Regions from separate parts of the Homo sapiens genome. Here region 2 is linked to region 1. The links come from fine-mapping of genetic effects on plasma protein levels. Region 1 holds a variant in brackets. A gene starts in the other region. All regions are shown on their reverse strands.

What was found. PIP is the chance, under the fine-mapping model, that this variant and not a neighbour inherited with it causes the effect. The UK Biobank Pharma Proteomics Project read protein levels with antibody pairs (Olink). The fine-mapping took linkage between variants from a reference panel, not from the people measured, so its PIPs are less certain.
Region 2: SCGB3A2 starts here. The variant in region 1 is fine-mapped to the plasma level of the SCGB3A2 protein (UK Biobank, PIP 0.90).

What each region holds. Positions count from the first base shown.
Region 1 is chr6:50,816,668-50,822,044 of GRCh38, reverse strand. It overlaps TFAP2B (transcription factor AP-2 beta), which reads right to left and starts at 3,174. Exons shown (of 7, transcript NM_003221.4): 1 at 3,073-3,174. The coding sequence starts at 3,153. LOC124901490 (a long non-coding RNA gene) reads left to right here and starts at 3,019. Exons shown (of 2, transcript XR_007059923.1): 1 at 3,019-3,143; 2 at 4,401-4,800. The variant C/A (reference allele first, on the strand shown) is at 2,299.
Region 2 is chr5:147,876,015-147,881,391 of GRCh38, reverse strand. SCGB3A2 (secretoglobin family 3A member 2) reads right to left here and starts at 2,681. Exons shown (of 3, transcript NM_054023.5): 1 at 2,534-2,681. The coding sequence starts at 2,588.

The DNA.
Region 1 (5,377 bases):
GAGCTGAGCTTGATGTGTTTCCAGGACAAGCCATCAAAAAAAAAAAAAAAAAATTACACCCGCCCCCCACCCCAACAAGATTGGCGATGCCTGTCACACACAGACAGAACTATTCATCTGTCTCTTTGCTGTCTTTTTGGCCTCTTTTCTTCTGCCGTTCTTCGGGGCTCCAGATGCAGTCCTCTTTCACCCGAAGCTGGGCTCAGACTGCTCGGCCGCCCCTTCCTCCCTCCGCTTGCCTACACCGCCTCATAATAATTGATATTCATGACTATTAATATTACACGAGTACTTTAAAGGGAGAATAGAGGACAAATGGAGCGTGAAGCAGCAGCGAGCGCAGAGCTCCCCTACTATTGTAAATGACGTTCATTCAGTGGAGAATTACTAGATGTAATCAGACGAGGGGGCTGGCAAAGGCAGACTGGGGAAAAAGTTTAGCAGGAAAGAGGCAGAACTTCAATTAACTGTGCCGGGGACACGAGTAAAGCAGCCCCTGCTCCTTTGGATAAGGCAGTGAGGGAGAACAGTGCTGGGAGGTTGTATAGAATGGAGGTGTCCTCCTACCTGGAGAGAGACTTCCCTAATCCGGAGGACTTGGTCGCCTTGGGTGCTTTGTGTGAGGATTACAAAAACAAAATAAAAAGGGTTGCTTCATCATTTGGAGGCGAGAGAAAGGCAAATTGGTGGGCCTGGTTATTTACAGTGACTTTTGCAGACTTTTGCTAAATGTGGAAGATTATGCTCATTTGTTAAAGGACAGAAGCGAGATGGAGGCTTTTCATTCCTGTGCAGCCTTTTCCTGTTTAGTGCTCACATAGTTTGCGATTTTTACCTCAATTTAAAACATACGCCATCAATCTTCAAATACACTAAACTTATCCTTTCCAGGCAAAGCCAGGGGCAACAGAAAACCTTTTTGGATGTTTCAGGAACCCGTTCAACTGGCCTGACTGCCATTTCTGTTAAAGTTCAACCTTAGTCCAGACTTAAATAGGCTCCTTCCACCGAGCTGCGGATTCTGTTTTTTGAGCAGAAAATTTAGGCAGATAGGACCACCTGTAATATTCCCTCTCTCTCCCTGTTTATTTCTCTTTCTCTCTCTCCCTCCCCTCTTTTCTCTTCTCTCTTCCCTCCCTTCCACTCCACCCCTCCCTCTTCCTCTCTCCCTCCCTCCTTTCTTCTCTCCCTCCTTCCTTTTCCATTTAGCTACTTTACTTTCTGTAAAGAACGAATGTTACCCTGGTTACTTTTTAGAACCCACTGAAATGCCTCTGCATGCATATAGCTTGAGCTGTTTTCACCATGGCCCCGTGCTTGCTAATGTCATGCCCACTTTGGGCGCTAATATTCTTTAGGACAGTTCTAGCGCCTTGGACTTTACCATTATCCCGCCTGTTAAGGAAAGAAAAGGAGGCCGAACCGAAACAATCCCCACCAGGCGCGTAGGCGCGGCTCTTCGTTACAGTCGATACACAACCACAAAGAGAAAAGGAAAACCCCAAGCATCATTCAGCAACAAGACCAATCTCTCTCCTCTCTGCTCTCTCGCGCTCTCTCCTGCTTTTCTCCCTCTCCTCTCTTATCTCCTCCTCCTCTCTCCTACATACCTCCACACATACACACACCCCAACATTAGGATTCGGGGGGGGGCAGGAGGTGTGGGCGCCAGGCGCTGCCTGTGGGCGCTCGTCCGAGCCCGAGTCCCCCAGGAGCTTGCCGGCCGCGCCTGTGAGTCGCCCACTCTTAGGATCTTCGAGGCGGCTCTGCGCCGGGCTTTCAGGAGCTGTCCCGATCCGGAGGGGTCGCGTGTCTTTCTCGGCTCTTTGGGGAGCCTCTGCATCCCTCCACCTTTCGTCTGACCTAGCGGCCCGCGCCCGCCACCCGGGAGTCTGCTTCTCTTCCTTCCTTTTCTCTCCAACTTTTCCTCTTAGCAATCTCCATGGCCCGCTTCGCCCGCCTCGACTTCCCTCCTTTTCTAAATCCGCTTCGCCTTTCCGAAGTTTTTATTTCCAACCTCGACGTCTCAGCAGAACCTTCCCTTCCTCCCTTCCCCTGGCAACCACCTGGGGCTGTCCCAGACCATTCCGCTTAAAAGCGAGGCTCCGCGGGCTTCCCGGTCCCCAGCCTGGCCCGCCGCGCGCCCCGCGCCTCGCCCGCCTCGGCCGCCTCTCCCACCTCGCCCGCCTCTCCCACCTCGCCCGCCTCGGCCGCCTCGTCCGCCTAGTCCGCCTCGCCCGCGAGTAGCGGAGCCGTCTGGCCGCGTCAGCCCTCGCCCGAGCCGGAAAAGGGCTTTGG[C/A]GAGCGCGGTCCGGGCCCCGGAGGCGGCTGGCGTCCTCCTGGCTGGGCGCAACTTCTCCTGCCCCGAAGAGTTGAGCTAGCCTCAGTGCTAGAGACCCGTACGCATTGAACGTGGGCAGAAATTTCCGTGAAAGATGCCCACACAGGAGGCGGCTGCGATTTCTGTTCGGACGCAGTGACCCTCAAGGAAGCAAAACACAAGAAAACAGAAACTAATAAACTGCTACGACTTCTATTTTGCTCTATCCATCCATATCTCCAGCCATCTACTTCTTTCCCGCTAATTCTCTGTCCTCTACTTGGAACCATTTGTTATCAATTTCAGAAATTTTATTGAAAATAAAAATTAAAAGCCCGAGTCTGTTACAAATGAGGCTTGAAAACCCAATTCTCTTCCACACTTAAAACGAGAAAAGCCCCTGACTTTATCAGAATCTCGATTTTCTCTGAGAGCGTGCCCACATTCAGTAGCACCACATTCCCCATCAGAGCTTAAAAGGGTGGGGTGGGGTGGGGGGAGGCGAGGAAAAGGGAAAGAAAAATAAAATAAATAAAAACATTCCTAAATTAAAGTTGTCAGATTTCAGCCTTAAAGTCCCTTTTCAGAGCAGCGAAGTCTTCCCTAGCCAGCTTTTCTAAAAGTTAAAAAAAGCTGAGAAAACCGACCGGAAATCTACGAGTAAATAGCTTAAAAATATATATCATTTGGGGTATCAAGAAGCTCAAATTCTCTATCTGCAAAGCTCTAAGGTGCATCTGGGGGTGTCGACTCACCTCATAGATATCTTCGTACTTGACATTCTCCACAAGCTTCCAGAGCATGATGGCAGCCTGGTCTCTAGGAGGTGAGTGCATTCATGTGAGGAGCAGATGTCTGGCTTCTCAGGACTCCGCTGTCTGTAATGATCCATCTATAATTGGAAATGGGGGATACACACCAAATCCGACGCTCCTCTCCCATCGCAACTTATATCTGTTGTCTCAAACAATAGGCTGGACAAGTAAGCCTCAGCAAAGAGAAAAAACATTATTGCACACACAGGAGTTAGATGCAACCCACAGACATATATACTATAAAAATCATAAACCCGTATTTACACCCAGACACCCACATATAGTTATATAAGCACCTCTGGGTCACACAGTCTGCAGACTCCAAATGTGCATTTAACAAAGAGTTGTTCAGGGTGATTAATATAATATATACATTTTATAACTTCTATATCGAAAATGACACATCATTGTAGCCACTAACTGAAGTCTTTGCAATTCATAATGAGAAACCAGGGGCCATCAGTCCCCTATTTTCTATGTAGATTTTAAAGGGGGACACTTACCAAGATTTTTAAACACAAAAGCTCCCTCCTATTCATGTATGTTCCGGAAGAGAGTATTTTGAAAGGCTGGATATGGGGGATTTTAAGGACTATCTCTGTGTTGATGGCTACACAACTTTTTTTTTTTTAACTTTATCTCTGTCACCATAGAACAAAAAAGCTAGCCACCGTTGATGACCATTTCTAATATTTTCTGGTCATTTTACCTAAAACCTTTGGAAACTTAAATACACCTCAGTTTGTGCTGCTTGTTATTTTAGGTGTTGTTTGTATGCATTTTCAACGGATTCCATGCACCATTCCTCTTGGCTGGAGTCTCCATTTTATCAAGTTTTTTTCAGATGTTGGAAGCAACGTACGCACACGTTCAGACAAGGTTAATTTTGAGCCTTTTTTGCAGAGGCCAAGGACATTTTATATTTGCATCTGTTGTGTATGACTTGTAAGTGGTTTTAATCATGGAGAGTCAAGAAAGGGCCACCCGAATCTTTGAAAAGGTTTAAGCAGAATGTCTTCAAAGAGATAGTGAAAAATATTTTAGTGCATGTGGAGTTTCTTCTTTTTTTTGTATAATTTTTCTTAATAAGATGATTCATATAGTTTTTAAAAAGGAAAACATCATCAGCAACAAGAACAATATTAACCAGACTTAGAAAATGGGCACCATTTAAGGCGCAGGGATTCTGAATTTTATCATGAAATGAATACTCATCTGTTCCCCTGTTCCCCCTTTCCCATCCCCTCTGTTTTTCTACTCCCTTTCAGGGTGCGGAGAGCTTCTCATAGCCGGAACAGACGCCCAGAAGAGGATCTCTGCGCCTGGGACAGAAAAGAAATGCCAGGAGGGACCGAGGAGGGATGGGGCAATTTGGGGTGGAAGTTATTAAGCCTGGTGAGAGTGAATCTGCAAAGGGTGATTGTCTTTAAATCCAGGACTGCTGTGTGCAGCTCTGCGCGAACAGGGATGGACGCTGTTTGAGTACAGGGCTCCGGACAACCTTGTTGGACGTCGATTCAATCAAAACCAAGGAGAAGCTTCATGAACTGCAGAATAAACAATTCTGCAGATTTTTAATTTAATTTTTAAAGATAAGTCAAAGGAAAAGAACACAAAGAAGGTGCTTCAGAAGGAACTTCAGAAATAAACCCCTTATTTCCGGTTGAATTTTTTATGTTTCGTCTTTCCTTTTCTCCTCTTCCTCCTTTTTGTTTTCCTTTTTTCTTTCCTTCATTTCCCTTTTCGTTCCTTCCTTTCTCTCTCCATTCCTTTCTTCCCCTTTAAATGTTAACCTTAAATCATACACAATCTATACAGATTTTTCACTAGGAGCATCAGCAAAGATTTTCTTCTTTGCTTCCAGAGCTAGTTAGGAGATGAGAAGGGATTTTTCTTAATCTTATTGTGTGGTGGGACTTGAAACGGGTTCCACACCCCCTGACTTCTAGAACTAAAATCAGTGCCAGATCAATAATCTGAAAGATAAATATTATAGACTTGGAAGTTCAGATTCTCCAGGCACAAGACATTTAATTAATGGAAATAATTGTTTTCTCCCTTTCAAATCAATAATTCTGTCATTGTTATTACCTAAAGATCATTACAACCCAAATAAAATGCATTTGGAAAAATCTCACTTTTTTTCTCTAAATGCTTTTAACACCTTTTAATATCTTTTTGGTATATTATTGCCTAGTCTAAAATAAATAAACTCTGAGATTTAACAAAACAAAACCTGCAAGAG
Region 2 (5,377 bases), not on the chromosome of region 1:
CCTCATCTTCTTTCCCTGTGTCCATCAATAGCTCCATTCCAGATCCACTCATCTTACTTCCATTGAAAACTTCTACCTCTGGCCCTTTGCACCTGCTGTTCCATCTCCCTAGAACTTTTTTTCCTTAGCTAGCTACTTACCTTTCTTTCTCACATTATTTGGTCTCTCTTCAAATATTACCTCCTCGGAGAAGCCTGCAATGGCCATAGTCACTCTCCGTCATTTATTTTTTCTTACCATTACCTAAAAAAAGCAACTCTTCATTTGCTGTTTTTATTGTCTTTATTTTCTCATTAGAATGGAGGCTCCATGAGAACAAGGAATGTGTGTTTTTTCGCTAATGCACCCATGCCTACAACTGACCCTGGCAGCGTAAGCATTCAACAGATCATTGTGATTGTCTGAAGGCGATGGTATTTTGTATGTGACTGTCTCCACAGCTCACAGCTTTGAGGCTAAAGGAGAGATGCTATAGTGAATCTCCACATAAAGACAGGAATGGACCCAACCACAGCCCAAGAAACTGCTCCCAACCAATTCAACTCAACGCTACAAACATAATTGAGCACCAACTCTATCTAGTCTGTGCAGATACATAGACAAATAAGACAAGGATGCCCATTCAGAGACTTCACACAGTCCAGTTGGTGATAGAAGATCTGTGTATGCCACAGTGTAGCATGTGCTATGCTAACATTATGGACAAAGCTCCATGGAAACACAAGAAAGGGATGACTAATTCTAACATGAAAGAGTGCTGCAGGAATTTTCCAGAAGTGCTGTTAGAGCTATGTCTTGAGGCAAATGTCAGGATCATAAGGTAAAGAAGAGGAGAAGCATTTTAGAAACATGACCAATAAAGGCACGGAACCATTAGGATAAAAGTGCATACACAGGATGGTGAGCCTTCTGCCCAGAAGGCTGGAGTGCAGATTTCCAATAGGCTATGACCAAAGGATGGAAGATAAAGGGAGTGAGGCTGCAAAAGTTGAGTGAGGTCAGATTTTTTAAAGTGTTGGATGTCACACAAAGGAGTTTGGATTTTTTTTTCCTGAGGGCAGTGGGGCGCTATCAAGGCTTTTACATAGGAAAATTACGTTTTATATCTTTGGCTTTAGGAAGATAACTTTCCCGTAGAAGATGAATGGTGGGAAAAAGTAGAGATTGAGGAAAATATGTACGATGTATTTTTTACAAAAACATGTGCAGATATATAAATGCACACATGCATGTGAGCACACACGTAAGAACACACATCCTCCTACTGGCTAAGACCTGCCATAGTTTATTTTCCTTTGGAAACCTATTATTTCCCCATTCAAATTATTAAAATGGAGCCTGTATATATTTTTTTAAATTTTCAATCACCTATTGTCCCTCCAAAATTCTCACCCAGAGGGGGCGGTATTTATTTTCCCCACCTCCTTTCTGCTGCCACTTTGCCCATAGATACCTGTCCCTGGACATTAGAGAACAGTGAAATATCCAAAACTGGTGAAGTTACAAATTCCTTCAGAAATTCAATAAACATCAAAAGCCAAAGTTGCCATTGTAGGTGTGGGCGGCAATCAATTTTTCATTATTAATCTCCATACTTCTTATTTCAGACATTTTGGTAAATATCTTCTCTGTATGTGTTTACAGCTTCCTGGGAGAAGATCTTCAAAGCCTTCTGTTCTCTCAATGAGCAGTGGCTATCATGAAATCTCTTTTTCCCATGTGCCCACACTGTCTTCCTGATAGTTACAATGATTCCTTCCAAAAAAATAAATCAGTTCCCATTCTCCTCCAAGAAGCCAGCTTCTATACCCTTACCTGAAAATTAAACTAATCACCCACCAATACACTAAAAGAGTTCTATCTGGATATCTCACAGTACGTTTACAGTAGTCTAGAATTATAGTAACTTAGGCAGAAGCCCTATCTATCCTACCAGAGTAGCACCTTAAGAACAATATTTATGACTGCTTCATGTCTAAATCTTCCAATGCCTATCCAGTGCCCAACAAATTGTAGCCATTCAATAAATATCCATTGAGTGGATAAACAGATGAATGTAGCTATCTCAGGAGAACCAAGCTAGCAAATTGGATAACTGGAGATGATAGCAAGAATGACTCCATATAGTTCAAAAGCACAAAAGAAATTATAAAGTCAAATTTTAACTCAAAATTGAGGAAAATAAGAAAAACGAATGGTGACCAATATCCAGCAGTGAAATGTGCTTTGTTGACCCTCCGTGGAAGTTGGCTAACTTCCTATGTAGGATGTATTAGAATACTTATATTGGGCTAGAGCTTAGATGGTGGGGATCTGAAATACTTTCCAACATCACCATTTTCTGTGATTCCAAAACTTCTTCCAACCCTGCAAATATGTGCAATTATTATGTGTCAGTTAAAAGTAAAATAAAAAAAAATACAATTCCTACCACCATATTCCACTGTCAGTGAGGCAAGGCTTACTAGTTGTGCTCTTATTAACAGAAAAGTAAAGAAATGTCACATATTCCAGATGTATTCCAGTTACTTACCAGAGTAACTACAAAGGCTGATGGTCACCAGCAGGAAGATAGTTACCAGCTTCATGACAGTTATCTGGGATATTTTTCAGGAGTTTAAAAATCAGAAAAATCTAGCAAAATCCACCAAGCCAGTGGTTCCACTTGCCATACAAAGTGTGATGGCTGCTTTTGCACACACATATTTATATGCCCATTGAGGACCTGAATTCTAGTCCCTACCACTTGACTCACCCCACCAAAGAAAGGGATAAATGTTATGTTTTCTCACCAAACAATTTGGAGGGTTTTCCACTTCCCCGTGTGTTCCCATGAGAAACAAAGCTCTACAGTACAGCATTCTCAAGTACCTCTTGCATAAACCCTTGCACAGAAATAAAAGCAGAAGGCAAAGAGCCCAACGAATCCTTCTCCTGGAAGAACATTGAAAAGAAGTGAAGAATTTATATTTGGATTAGAAGGAGTGTTTTCCTCTGGTTTTCTACATTTTTCCCCAGTTTTCTAATCATTTAAAGTTTGGAGAATCACATTAGCTGATGAACTACCCAGTTGTGAAAGCAATCTGGAGGCCACTCTGGTATAATACAGAGTCAGCTTCATGACATTTAGTGCCACATTTCTCTGGAATTCACCTGCCCCCAGCCCACTCACACATCTACTATGGTAAGATTTTCACACCTCTGTTACCTTTTCCAGTGTCAGTTACTTTGAGTATGTTCAGAGCATGTCTTCTCTGAGCCTTTGGATAGAATAATAGGCTTAAGATCTAAAATCAGAGTGTCTTTTGAAAAACCTGGGATTCAATTTTCACTGTTTGTGTAATCTTGGATTTGACATTTTTAATCTAGGATATTGGTCCTCTCATCTAAAATGGGAACATAAATAACACAACCAACCATAAGGTGTGTAGCTTGGGGAAAAAATTGTTTTTGCAAGATTCTTTGGCAATCAAATCCGATAAAATCATTCAAAAATACGTAATTGTAAGGTACTGGCTACAGGAGTAGTAATTTGTTTCCAAGGCTGTCTTTCTGGATCCAGGGTTCAGCCACAGGACCTCAGGACAACTTCATTTGTGAGCAGAAGTCCTGGAGTTCTTTGGGGCATCGAGTGGGCCCGACATGCAAGGAAGAGGGTAAGAAAGAACCATGAAGGGGTGAAATAGAAAGCGGAGTCCATATGGGCACAGGACCAGCTCAGGGCTCCCCGGCCACGTGGTACTGCTGGCTCCAGCCATTCCCACCACCAAAGTGGAACCCAGAAAATTTTGAGAAAACACACCTTAAGATGTAAGGCCAGAGGTTGGGGCTTTATTTGTCCTCATCTGAGGGTGTGGTATTGTAATGAAGATCTAATAAAATTATGCAGACAGAGCATTCTGCTATGCCAAACCAAAATTAATATCTAATTTATGTCACATTTTACTAATTTTTATGTTACCATGTTGTAACTGTCATTTCTTTATCTTTCTGCTACTTTATAAACTACTTTATAAACTACATGAAAGACACCATGAATGCCTGCCATGCACCTCAATCCTGCCACTTCTCCTTCTTTCTCTACCAGTACTGCTTCCATTTCTCCCACATATTCCCACTGATGCCAGTGATATTAATATACCAAGCCCCTCAAAGAGCCAAGGTTGGTGGTAAGATTGATGCCGTTGCCGGAGGAACAGGGTCCAGCTGCTTGCTCTCGTGGTCCAATGATGAGATACAGGTGAACTGGGAAAGAAGCGAGTTTATTTTTGTAACCAGCCACAGGGAGAAGGTCGGAGTAATTTACCAGACCAACTAAAAGTTATGAGTTTTTCCTTTAGTATATATAAATGAATTTCAAGCTCTATGCCTATATGCAGGAGTATTTCTACTTAGCCTAAATCTAATCTTTAACTAGTGGTCTGTGGGCTGGAAAGTTTCTTAATTTTACATGGGTCCTGGTATGGTTTGTATGTGCATGAATGCTTTTATCACTCAATCAGGTTTGAGGATGAGAAAGCCCAGGTAGGGTCTTAACGGGTTTGTTTCTGCATTCCAGGTCTCCTACTCAGGCACCAGTTTCTCTAGTTCTTCAATGTTTAACTTACACATTCATCATTACAGCAAAGGGCTTATGGAGACTTGGTTGCTTGTGGAGATCCAGCCTGCCACAATGACGCCCTTTAGTTTTTTATTATGGTCTCTTTTGGAATACTAAACCAGTGCTGCCCTCAAATTTGTTTGCTTGCTTTTAAATCCTTTCTCTTCACTTTCATTCCTGGCTCTGTATTATAGAAAGTTGACTTTTTAAAATGTGGTTTCCAGGCTTCCTTGCTTCCAGGCTTCCTTGCCAACTGCATCTGATTAAGTTAAGCCAGGGGAAGGCACAGGTGAAAGAGTGGAGAGAGAGAGAAAAGGAGAAGGGATATGTCTCCCTCTCTCCAATTCAGGAGCTATCATGGGTAGTGGCTGCACCCTCTCCAAGGCTCATCTCCTTTTGGAAAGGTCCTTTATCTGTGGTTCCCCCTGTGCCACACAGGCCAACATTGTTCCAGCTTTTACTGCATGGCCCCAGCTCCTAGACCCCACCTTCTCATCACTGTCCTTCCTGACCTAGAAGGAGTAACAACTTTCTGCATTTTCTAATCTCAGAGTTGATTCATCTTCTGCTTGGTTGCTTTAACTGCATTTCTAGCACTTTGTAAATTACCCTACATGTTGAATTCTTTCTGTGTGGTCACTTGGTATGGTTTTAACTTTTTGGCTGGACTCTGACTGACACAGCATCCTAAAATATTGTAGCGCTTTCAATAAAAAATAGGTTTTCCAGTTTCTAAACTGACTTCTTATAAAAGCCAAGTTATAAATCCATGAGGGA